Linked DNA regions of Homo sapiens: region 1 is linked to region 2. Evidence: fine-mapped expression QTL. A gene starts in region 2. The other region holds a variant in brackets. All regions are shown on one strand. Distances are between the middles of the regions. Region 1 overlaps CHEK1 (checkpoint kinase 1). Region 2 holds the start of ACRV1 (acrosomal vesicle protein 1).

What was found. PIP is the estimated chance that this variant, and not a neighbour inherited with it, causes the effect. A credible set is the group of variants that fine-mapping cannot tell apart.
Region 1: its variant is the best candidate, but not a certain one, in a credible set for the expression of ACRV1 in lymphoblastoid cells (GEUVADIS, PIP 0.73).

Annotation. Positions count from the first base shown.
Region 1 is chr11:125,654,245-125,659,635 of GRCh38, forward strand. CHEK1 (checkpoint kinase 1) reads left to right here. Exons shown (of 13, transcript NM_001114122.3): 13 at 981-2,903. The coding sequence ends at 1,076. Among named protein-coding and RNA genes, the nearest start is that of ACRV1, 24 kb to the right of the region's middle. The variant T/TTGTGTG (reference allele first, on the strand shown) is at 2,943.
Region 2 is chr11:125,678,587-125,683,977 of GRCh38, forward strand. ACRV1 (acrosomal vesicle protein 1) reads right to left here and starts at 2,261. Exons shown (of 4, transcript NM_001612.6): 1 at 2,143-2,261. The coding sequence starts at 2,194. It overlaps LOC105369551 (a long non-coding RNA gene), which reads left to right and starts at 4,733. Exons shown (of 2, transcript XR_007062934.1): 1 at 4,733-5,391. It also overlaps a transcript of CHEK1 not described here.

The sequences.
Region 1 (5,391 bases), 24 kb before region 2:
ATTTGAACCTGGGAGGCGGAGGTTGCAGTGAGCCGAGATGACGCCACTGCACTCCAGTCTGGGTGACAATACAAGAGACTCTGTCTCAAAAAAAAGAAATTTCTGCTTTTGTGAAAAATGTAGATAAGCAAAAAATGAGAAAATAAAAATAATTCTAAATTTTCAGTGATCACATTAATATTTCGAAGCATTTTAATATTTTTCTTAATTTATGTCTTTTAATAAAAATTATGATTTGTTACAAATATTTCATTATAATTTAATGAACCTTTACCAGTTATAATAATTCTGTGATTGCTATTTTATGCATAGATTTTTTTGTTCATATTTCTGATGATTTCTTTAGAAATCATTGATTCTAAGATGATAGTATTACAGCCCTTGATATATAAAACCAAAATAACATTTTTCTCTATTTTCTGAGAGATTGTATGTGGCTCTAAAGAGGGTTGGAGGGGTAGCTGCTGTGTTAGAGCATTTGCCGCAGTACTCTTTGTATTAGAGATTTGCTGCAATACTGTTTTTCAGATGCTTGCTACAGAATTAAATTAAGATCGTAGTATAATGAAATTCTTCTCATAACTAAATCTATTGATTTTGGTCAGTAGTGTTATGACAACAAGACTTCAGTTTAGTTGTATAGTTTATTGTTAGTTTCCAAACCCTCACTGCCTATGGAATGTAATGACTTAGGTCCAGATATACCAACACCTGAAACAGATAGGATGCCATGTTTATCTGCTCTCTGAGCTCAGTGCAGTAGGAACAGTGATGGGCATGAAACCACATCAGAATTATTTGTGTAACAATTTTCTCTTCCAGGATATTTGGTCTTCATAAACAGACCGAAAAGAAAATGGTAGCTAGACATACCTAAAGATGTTTGTCTCTTGTTACCACTACAAAGAGATTGATTTTAGGACAGAATTTTGTTTTTGTTTTTGTTTTGACATAATTTTTTAATACTATTTCTAATATAGGGTGATGGATTGGAGTTCAAGAGACACTTCCTGAAGATTAAAGGGAAGCTGATTGATATTGTGAGCAGCCAGAAGATTTGGCTTCCTGCCACATGATCGGACCATCGGCTCTGGGGAATCCTGGTGAATATAGTGCTGCTATGTTGACATTATTCTTCCTAGAGAAGATTATCCTGTCCTGCAAACTGCAAATAGTAGTTCCTGAAGTGTTCACTTCCCTGTTTATCCAAACATCTTCCAATTTATTTTGTTTGTTCGGCATACAAATAATACCTATATCTTAATTGTAAGCAAAACTTTGGGGAAAGGATGAATAGAATTCATTTGATTATTTCTTCATGTGTGTTTAGTATCTGAATTTGAAACTCATCTGGTGGAAACCAAGTTTCAGGGGACATGAGTTTTCCAGCTTTTATACACACGTATCTCATTTTTATCAAAACATTTTGTTTAATTCAAAAAGTACATATTCCATGTTGATTTAATTCTAAGATGAACCAATAAAGACATAATTCTTGTGACTTTTGGACAGTAGATTTATCAGTCTGTGAAGCGAAGCCAGCTTCAAAACATATCCCCAAGATTTGTACTTATATTTTCAAAAGGGCCTGGCCAGTTATATAAACCTGTTTTTGAATTATAATGATTAATTAAAATTGCAAGTAGGTGTTTTTTCCAGTGTAGTTAGTAAAATACTTGTATTTTACAGTGTTGCATAAACTCTAGTGCTTAACTAACTTTACTCTAAAAATTACTGTTGAACATCTTAAATATTTTTCTATATTTTCTACTTTCATAGCCATATTTTAACCTTTTCAACTTACTGGTGACCAAGCTTTTAGGTGATAAAGAATAAAAGAGGGAAGGGAAGAGTAAGGAAGCTATAAGAAAAATAGATCTGATTCTTTGTTCCTTTACCTGTTAGACTTACAAAAAGTTTGTTTTTCTAATAAAATTTGTATCAACTTTGGGGCATATTAGGTTGAGGCCTTGGCTCCTGCCTGTAGTCCCAGCTACTTAGGAGGCTGAGAGAGGAGGATCGCGTGAACCTGGAAGTTTGAGGCTGTAGTGAGCTATGATTGCACCAGTGCACTCCAGCTTGGATGACAGAGTAAGACCCTACCTCTAATAAAAATTTTTAAAATTGTAAAACATTATAAAATTAATCAGTTATTTTAATCTGAAGCCAAGAACATGTAGAATGTTATGATTAGAGTTTATCACATATTAATGTATACTGGCAAATTGTGTTACTGGAGTATACCCATAGGAGGAATAAATTCAAACCTGTTTTATTTATTTGAACCTATTTACGGTATGCTTAAGAATTGAATCAGTATAAATTCTCAAATATGGGAGAAATTTTGTTCTTGAGAATTATCTGAGTCATTAATATTTTTCAAAAACAGCTCTCACTGACTTGAACCTCTTCTGTAAGCTCTAACCTTTTACCTGCTTTACATTTCCACTTGAATGTCTAGTAGGCATCTCTTGACCAAAAACAGCTTTTGATTCCTGTTCTCCAACCTGTTCCTCTCCTAGTTTTCTCCATCTCAGAAATGTTACTTCCTCTGCAAAGTCTTTCCCTGACTTATCTAAAATAATAACCTCCTCTGTTTGCTGTGGGAATTTGTATAGAATGGTGGGAAAATTTCAAGTTTCATATTTGGATTAGCTCTGACATTTATTTATCTGAACACTGGTAATTGCCTCAGTAAAGACACTGATAATAAGTACCTTTTAGAGTTATTTTAATCTTTAATGCTTTAATGTGTAGGAAGAGTATAGTGTCCTGTTTTGCACAGAAAGGCATTCTGTAAATAATAAGTTGCCTTAATTTTCCTGTAATGTTCATTATATTGTTGTGGGAAGGTATTTACTCCTATTATTAAAAATAAAAATGTGTAAAATTTACTACCTGAAGATAACAGTTCAAATTTTGATGGAAAAATCAACCTATGC[T/TTGTGTG]TGTGTGTGTGTGTGTGTGTGTGTGTGTGTGTAATGTGTACAGTGTGTGTGGTTGTTGAGATAAGCATAATTATATAAAAATATGTGTGTGTGTGTTTAATGTGTACAGTGTGTGTGGTTGTTGAGATAAGCATAATTATATAAAAATACATAAAATATGTACACTTCAATGTGCAGTTGTAAAGTTAACATTCACTTAACCACAACTCAATTGTAGAAAGATCATTTACAGACCCTTAAGAACTTCCTATATGCAGTCTCCCAATCACAACCCACTTCTTTCCCCCAGAAATAATCACAAAATAGACTTTGGTGATAATCTTTTCCTTCGTGTGTTTTAGAGTGTTCTCAGCTATTTATGCAAATAATATCATTTAGTTTATGTATTTTTAATTAATATGGTTTTTATTAACGAACTTTATATACATTTTGCTGTATTTTTCATGTGTTGATTTTTTATAGCCATGCTTTTGTGCATATTGAATTCATTAATTTTAATTTTTATATAGGATGTATTTATGAACATCCCACTAACTATTCTGCTGCTAATTGATATTTGGATTGTGTACAGTTCGATGCTATTATAAAATTCTTCTAAGGACATTCTTGTACATGTTCATTTGTTTTGCTAGGTCCTAGAGTCTAAGGTATATATCCAGAAGAGGAATAGCTGGATATTAGGATAGAATAATGACAAACTGTTTTCTAAAGTGATTGTACAGATTAGTGTTTCCATAGGAGAAAAGTGTACAGTTACTGGAAAAACAGTTTGGAATGATCTAAAGCATAAGAATGTTCATAGCAACAGAATGTATTTCTAGTATTCCAAATTTTCACCTACAGTTGGTGTGGTCAGTATAAGTTGTTGTTTTTGTTTTTGTTAATGTTTTTTTTTCCTTTGAGACAGGGCCTCACTTTGCTGCCCAGGCTGGAGAGCAGTGGTACAAACATGACTCACTGCAGCCTTAGCCTTGCAGGCTCAAGCAATCCTCCTGCCTCAGCCTCCCAAGTAACTGGGACCACAGGCACATGCCACCACACCTGGCTAACTTTTGTATTTTTTGTAGAGACAGGGTCTCACCATGTTGCCCAGTCTGGTCTAGTCTGTTTTAACAAGTTGTTGCTGTGTAATGATATATGTGTGGTGTTAATTTGCTTGTTCCTAAGTTTAAATGAGGTAGAGCATTTTATGACATGCCTGTTCTAGTCTTTTGCTTATTTTTCTAATTGCCTTTTCTTTTTCTTAATAATTTCAGTTCTTCATATGTTCAGCATACTAGTCCTTTGTCAATTTACATGTATTGAATATATATACTCTCCCATTCTGCGGCTTATTGTTCCATTCTTCATGAACATTTGTAATTTTAATGTCCTATTTAGACCTTTCCTCTGTCTATTGTTTTATATTTTGTATTAAAGGAGTCATTCATTACTCCAAGATCATGAAGATTTTCTTGTATGTAATCATGTAATCTTCTTAAAAGCTTCATGGCTTTTGCTTTTTTTTTTTTTTTTTTTTTTTTTTAAGAGTCTTGTTGTGTCTCCAAAGCTGGAGTGCAGTGGCACAATCACAGCTCACTGCAGCCTCAGCCTCCCTGGCCCAAGTGATCCTTCCACCTCAGCCTTCTGAGCTGGGACTATAGCCATGCACCACCATGCCCAGCAAATTTTTTATTTTTTGAAGAGACCAGATTTCACTGTGTTGCCGAGGCTGGTTTCGAATGCCTGGGCTCAAGTGATCATCCTGCCTTGGCCTCCCAGAGTGCTGGGATTACAGGTGTGAGCCACCATGTCTGCCTGGCCTGTTTTTTGGCTGATTTAGGTCTATAATTCATCTGAAATTGGCTTTTGTGTAGAATGTGAGGTAGAGATTAGGTTTCATTTTTTTCCTTCATATGGCTATCCAGTTTAGCACTGGTTATTGAAAAGATCATTATTTTTTTTCACTAGTCTTCATTGATATCCAATCAAGTACTCAAATGTTTTAATTATTTTTTATACTTTGTATTGAATCAGATCCAAATAAAGTTTAAACATAATAATCGATTGATGTCTTTTAAGTTGCTTTTAGTCTGTAAGTTCCCTCTTTATTCCCTTTTTTTTCTCTTGCAGTTTATTGGTTGAAGAATCCAGCTGGTTTACTCTATGATTTTCTTAAGTCTAGATTTGTGGGTTTGATTGCTATGATAGTTTCAGATCTTTCTTCTATTTTCTGCATATCCTATAAATACATTCGAGATACTAGTCCTGTGTCAATTATATGTTGCATATAGGCATTTTATAAATTTCCTAAGTACCATTTTTCTTCATGCCACAAATTTTTATGTGTACTATTTTTGTTATCCAGCTCAAATTTTTTTCTAATATTGTTATGACTTTTTTCTATATTTTTACATTGTAGTTCTCAGATCTTTATATGATTTATTTTTTGATCCATAAATTATTTTGA
Region 2 (5,391 bases):
AAAAACCCCTGAAGGAAAATGAATGTGCCTCCCTGACAAAGTCAGCATCAGGAAGTCAGGATACCATCCCTGATAGAATCAGAAGTTCGCCACCAACCCTCCCATTCCTCTATGGGTGAAAGACAAGAAGAGTAGAGATAGAAGAGGGAGAGAGAAAGCAAGTAGTTTTCAATACCTGAGTATTTGTAACCTAAATTAAGGGCGGAAGAGTTAACCTTTGGACAGGGATGACAAGTATGAGCCCACAAAAATTATCAGAAGGGATTAAGCCGCCTGTATTTGGTAATGTCAAGTATTTTCTCACACTCAATCCCCAATCCATGTGGGTTGGGGATTCAGAGAGCAAAGTTGCTATAAGCTATTAAGGTAAAAAAAAAAAAGTCTAGGCATATTATATATATATATATATATAGACACACACACATATATGAATTGTATCCTTGTGACATACCATTTACATTCACTTCATGGAGTTGTCCTGAGTACTTAATAAGATAAATTGTGAAGTGCACCATTGCCTAGTACTCAATTTTATTTTTCTTTTCTTCCCACCTTACACTGGGAATTACAAAACTCTTACATGGTTATTTTTTTCTGGCCAGTCTCTTCTACCTTTAATCCGTCTCTTTCTTTTTTTTTTTTTGTTTCAAAGATAGAGTCTCGCTCTGTTGCCCAGGCTGGAGTACAGTGGCACAATCTTGGCTCACTGCAACCTCCGCCTCCCGGGTTCAAGTGATCCTCCTGCCTCTGCCTCCCGAGTAGCTGGGATTACAGGTGCATGCCACCATACCTGGCTAATTTTTGTATTTTTAGTAGAGACAGGGTCTCGCCATGTTGGCCAGGCTGGTCTTGAACTCCTGACCTCAAGTGATCCGCCCGCCTCAGCCTCCCAAAATGCTGGGATTACAGGCATGAGCCACTGTGTCTGGCCAATCCATCTCATCATTGACTGTCAGACAAATATTCCTTAAGTATATTTTAAGTGAACAGAAGCACAAAACAGATAATTTGATTATTACTCTTTGATTAAACTGAGCCACCTAGAGGAAGACAAGTAGACTACAACAACCAAGTTATTTAATTCTAGCCAAAAGCTGAGAGGAATTATTGGATCTTTGAGGCTGAGGTAGTCTAAAACCCCAGAGTACTCAAAACTCTAAGAATCTTGCGATAGATATATTTTCTTGGCACAGTGCAGTACTTACAATCAGTGACTTTCTAAATGACTAGGGTGAGAATATGTTGATAAAGGAAAGGTAAGATTTAGTAAAGCTTTTAGGAGGTTTTTATTTTTTAAACTTATTACATAAATACTATCTACTTGACTGGTTTTTCAATAATTAACACAAGTTTTGATAAAGAGATGTTTCTGATATAGAAAGGAGACATAAAAAGCATGCTAATTTCTTGATCTTATAGTTTATGACTCGTGTCACCATGTGACTGGCACATACTATCACCTGGTGGCTGTGTATCTACATTTTTGAGTCAACTTTTGAAGGTCTAACAAAGCAAAAAGCAAAACCTCTGACAGTCGACATTATAGAAAATACATTGTTTTTTCACTGAAAGCTCAGAGCTCATGGCCTCTTTCTGCTGTAGGAGGCAGGAGGGAACACAGCACACCATGAATGGGGGATCCCAAAAGAAGAGATGATACAGAAAACCTGATTGATATAACACAGCCATGAAGAAGAGGCTTATGAAGTCTCTGGCCTATAGCTCTGTCGTGTTCTGAGGTTGTTTTCTGAACACATTACATCTTCCCATCTCCCATCTTTCCTTGGCACATTAACCACACAAGGATCCCTCACATTTAATTGGTGGGACAAACCTTCATTGGGCTTCTACAGAACCCCTAAGCCTACTTTTTCATCTCATGCAGCATCAGGTATAAATGTTGAGTGGCTAAAATAAGTAGAAACCAGACTGTGCCAAGCCAGTGGGACCCTCTGACTGTAAAGCTATGACTAGAGAAATCAACTGGTTCAGGAGCTCTCCGAGTTGGACTTGTTTAGCTGCTCTTGATTCTGACTCAGATTGGTTTGGGTGACTGAGAGACTGGTCTTCCTTCTTCAAGGCCTGAAATGTCTTAAGGGAGACCCCTTTTGTATTTACCTGAAGCCTAGATCAAACACTCACCTCTGGCAGATCCAAGCAGATAAAGACTCATTAGCAAGAGAAACCTGTTCATCTGGATTTAGGAAAAGAGGGGACCCCAGTGTGGGCCACAGCTTCTTCACAGAGCTATGAAGCAAACTGCGAGCAAAAGCTTCCAGTGCTGAAGCAGAGCTTCTGGGAATTCTAGAACCTCAGAAGTAACCCATGTTTCTTCACAATGGGTTGGGCTCTGAGGTTCTTGTGTAGCCTGTTCAGGCAAGTTGGCCCTTAGCAACCCACTGCTTATTTCACTAGTGAAGACCAATGATTATTTTCTGTGTGCAGGGTAGTGTGTTGGGGCTATCTGCCCTATCTTTAAAAAAAAAAAAAAAGTATTACCAAAAAGCACATATTTTTTGTAATAAAGTTTAAAAGATATCTACTGTCTTTTAAAAGTGTTTTTGACAATGAGATGTAATTGTTGATTGTTTTCTGTTTGGCTTTCTAAATCAGCCTTTCTTGGCTCTGATCTGTACCCTGGAAGGTTGACCTCTGTTGACTTTATCACCTGAATGCTGGCTGGATTTGGCTTCAGATTGGGTTTATACAGGATTGGAGGGGAGAAGAGAGAAAGAGAGAGAGGAAGAGGGAAGGGAGGAATGGGGAGAAAGAGAGCGAGACTGGAATATTTGTTCTTCCTATTCCCTTCCTGCCACAGTTGACACTGGCTGAGTCTACATGACAGAGCTTCTGTTGGGTGTCCTCTCTTCCATGGCTCCAGCTCTCATCCATGCTATGGTAATATGTTTTTCTCCCCCTGCCCTCTTAGGCCTAGGGATGATAATGGTTTCCTGCTGTTACTAAAATCTGGATGCCCAAACTTATCTCTTTTTTTGTTTGTTTGTTTCCTTAACCTTGCCCACTTCTGTAAATAGTCTTTTCATACAGACCTTTATCAACATGGTTTTAGCAGGAAACAGGTGGCAAACTCAAATGGGTAACTGAGGAGAGTTTACACAGATATGGGCAGAGTAAAGAGATCAAGAGACAGTAGAAAGCTGCGTTTTGAGCTGCAACTTGGTAGCAAGGGGGTGGCCAAGCTGAGAAGATGGATGCAGTGAGGCATCCACCTGATATAAAACTAGAACTTATGGAGGATTGAGTGGCAAAGATCTGGTAGCTTCCATTTCTCGCTGCTTCTCTGCTCAGCTCTCTTGAACAACTTTGTTTTATATACCACTGAATGCTAAATCTAGAATAGATGTACTTATTGTTACATTTTGAAAGGAAGGTGAGGGTTAAAGAAAGAGAGAGTGGCGGCTCTACATCAAATCCAGGCTTTCTGTCTAGCATAAGACCTACAGAGGTGGGGGACTAGCTTAATGCCAGTGCCCACTGCTTCGTACAGGTTGGGGTACTTGTAGGTATGAGCAGGACGGGTCTGGGCAGTATGGCTTGCTGCCTGGGAAGATGTTCCCATAATGAGGCATTTTGGCCCTTGTTCCCGCAGAATGTGATGCTGATGTTCCTTGGACTTTTTCCCAGCAGAGTGTGATAAAGTCAGGGAGGCAGTTGGACAGGCTGTTTCTAAGGGCCCAAACCCCCGTGGAATGCTTCACTTTAGCCAAGGTCTGCAAAATGGCGGGGGTCGGTGGGGGTTACGAAATGGTGCAGTTTGGACTAACACTTTATCACTGTTATAATTATTTGTTTCATGTTTGTACTCCCCGTTGGACTCTAAGCTTGAATGCAGAGACCCTGTCTTGACTATTGTTGTAGTCCCAGTACCTAGCAGCATGCCTAAGCTTTTCCTGAAGGAAGGAAGGAATGAGTTACCTTTTGGGGCCTCTCTCTGCCTCATAGAGGAGAATTTATAGAGAATCATGTAAGAGAATCTATAGAAGAGAATCTGGATTAAGGTTCTGGGTTAGTTGAAGACAGCAAGATCACCAGGGATCAAAAGTTACTTGACTTGAGTTAGAGGATAAAGCTAGGATTTCTGAGCCTCAGGCAGGTTCCTTTACAGTAGAGAAAGGTATGAAAGAGCATGCTATCAATAATTCTTTTCCTCCAGGATGAGTTTGGAAGAACAGCTATGAGCCTTGGGTCTGACTTTTGTTGATAGAAGCAGTGGAAATTAGTAGAAGGGAAGAGGTGCTATCTATTCCACCCTAACTTAGAACATAGAAAGACAGACAGTGGGCTCTGGAGAGCTGATGCTTTCAGCTGAAAACAATTGTTTTTAAAAATTCCCTATGTAAATTTGCTTCAAAATAACCTAAATGAGGGATTGTAGCAATGAACGGGGAAAGAAGATAAAATAAGACTGGACACAGTGGCTTGTGCCTGTGATCCTAGCACTTTGGAAGGCTGAGGCGAGCAGATCACCTGAGGTCAGGAGTTCAAGACCAGCCTGGCCAACATGGTGAAACCCCATCTCTACTAAAAATACAAAAAAATTAGTCGGGCATGGTGGCGGGCACCTGCAATTCCAGCTACTTGGGAGGCGAAGGCAGGAGAATCGCTTGAACCTGGGAGGTGGAGGTTTCAGTGAGCTGAGACTGTGCCATTGCATTCCAGCCTGGGCAACAAGAAAGAAACTCTGTCTCAAAAAAAAAAAAAAGAAGATAAAATAAGATTGGTCCTGTGTGCATGATTGTTGAAGCTGTGTGATGGGTACATGCGGGTACTCTCTACTTTTGTATATGTTTGAAACTTTCTATACTGAAAATCTTCAGGGTGGAGGGCAGAAATACCTATTTGGAAAGCCTAGATAATCAATGCCTTATTTAAAATAGCTTCAGGGGATGATGGAGAAGTCTTTTTAATATGTGTGTGCATTAAGACCTAGATAGGAGCTTAACTGCTCCCTATTATACAACTATCCTACACCCAGGGCTGGCTTCCTGAGCAGGCGCATGGGCCCACACTCAAAAGGGCCCTGGTTTCTTGCTTTGCTTTCAATCTCTGGAAATTCTTCGTCACTTTCTAACAAAGGCGCCTCATTTTTGCGTTGCACTGGGTCCCACAAGTGCTGTCTCCAGTCCTGCCTAGATCTCATTTTCCAGTCCCCTTAGGTATATCACCGTCTGGTATTGGAAAGCTTTGGCCTCTGAAACCAGGTTGAGGAAGCTTTCTTTTAGGAAGAGCTGGGGCACACCTAAGTCCAGGCTGCTGGCTTCAAGCAGACATTCCTCCCCTTCTTGCACTCTTCCCTACTTGATAAATATGTTCCCATATAAGTTTGTTGTGCTCTGATTTTTAGTAGAAGCCTTCTCAGAAACATCCCTT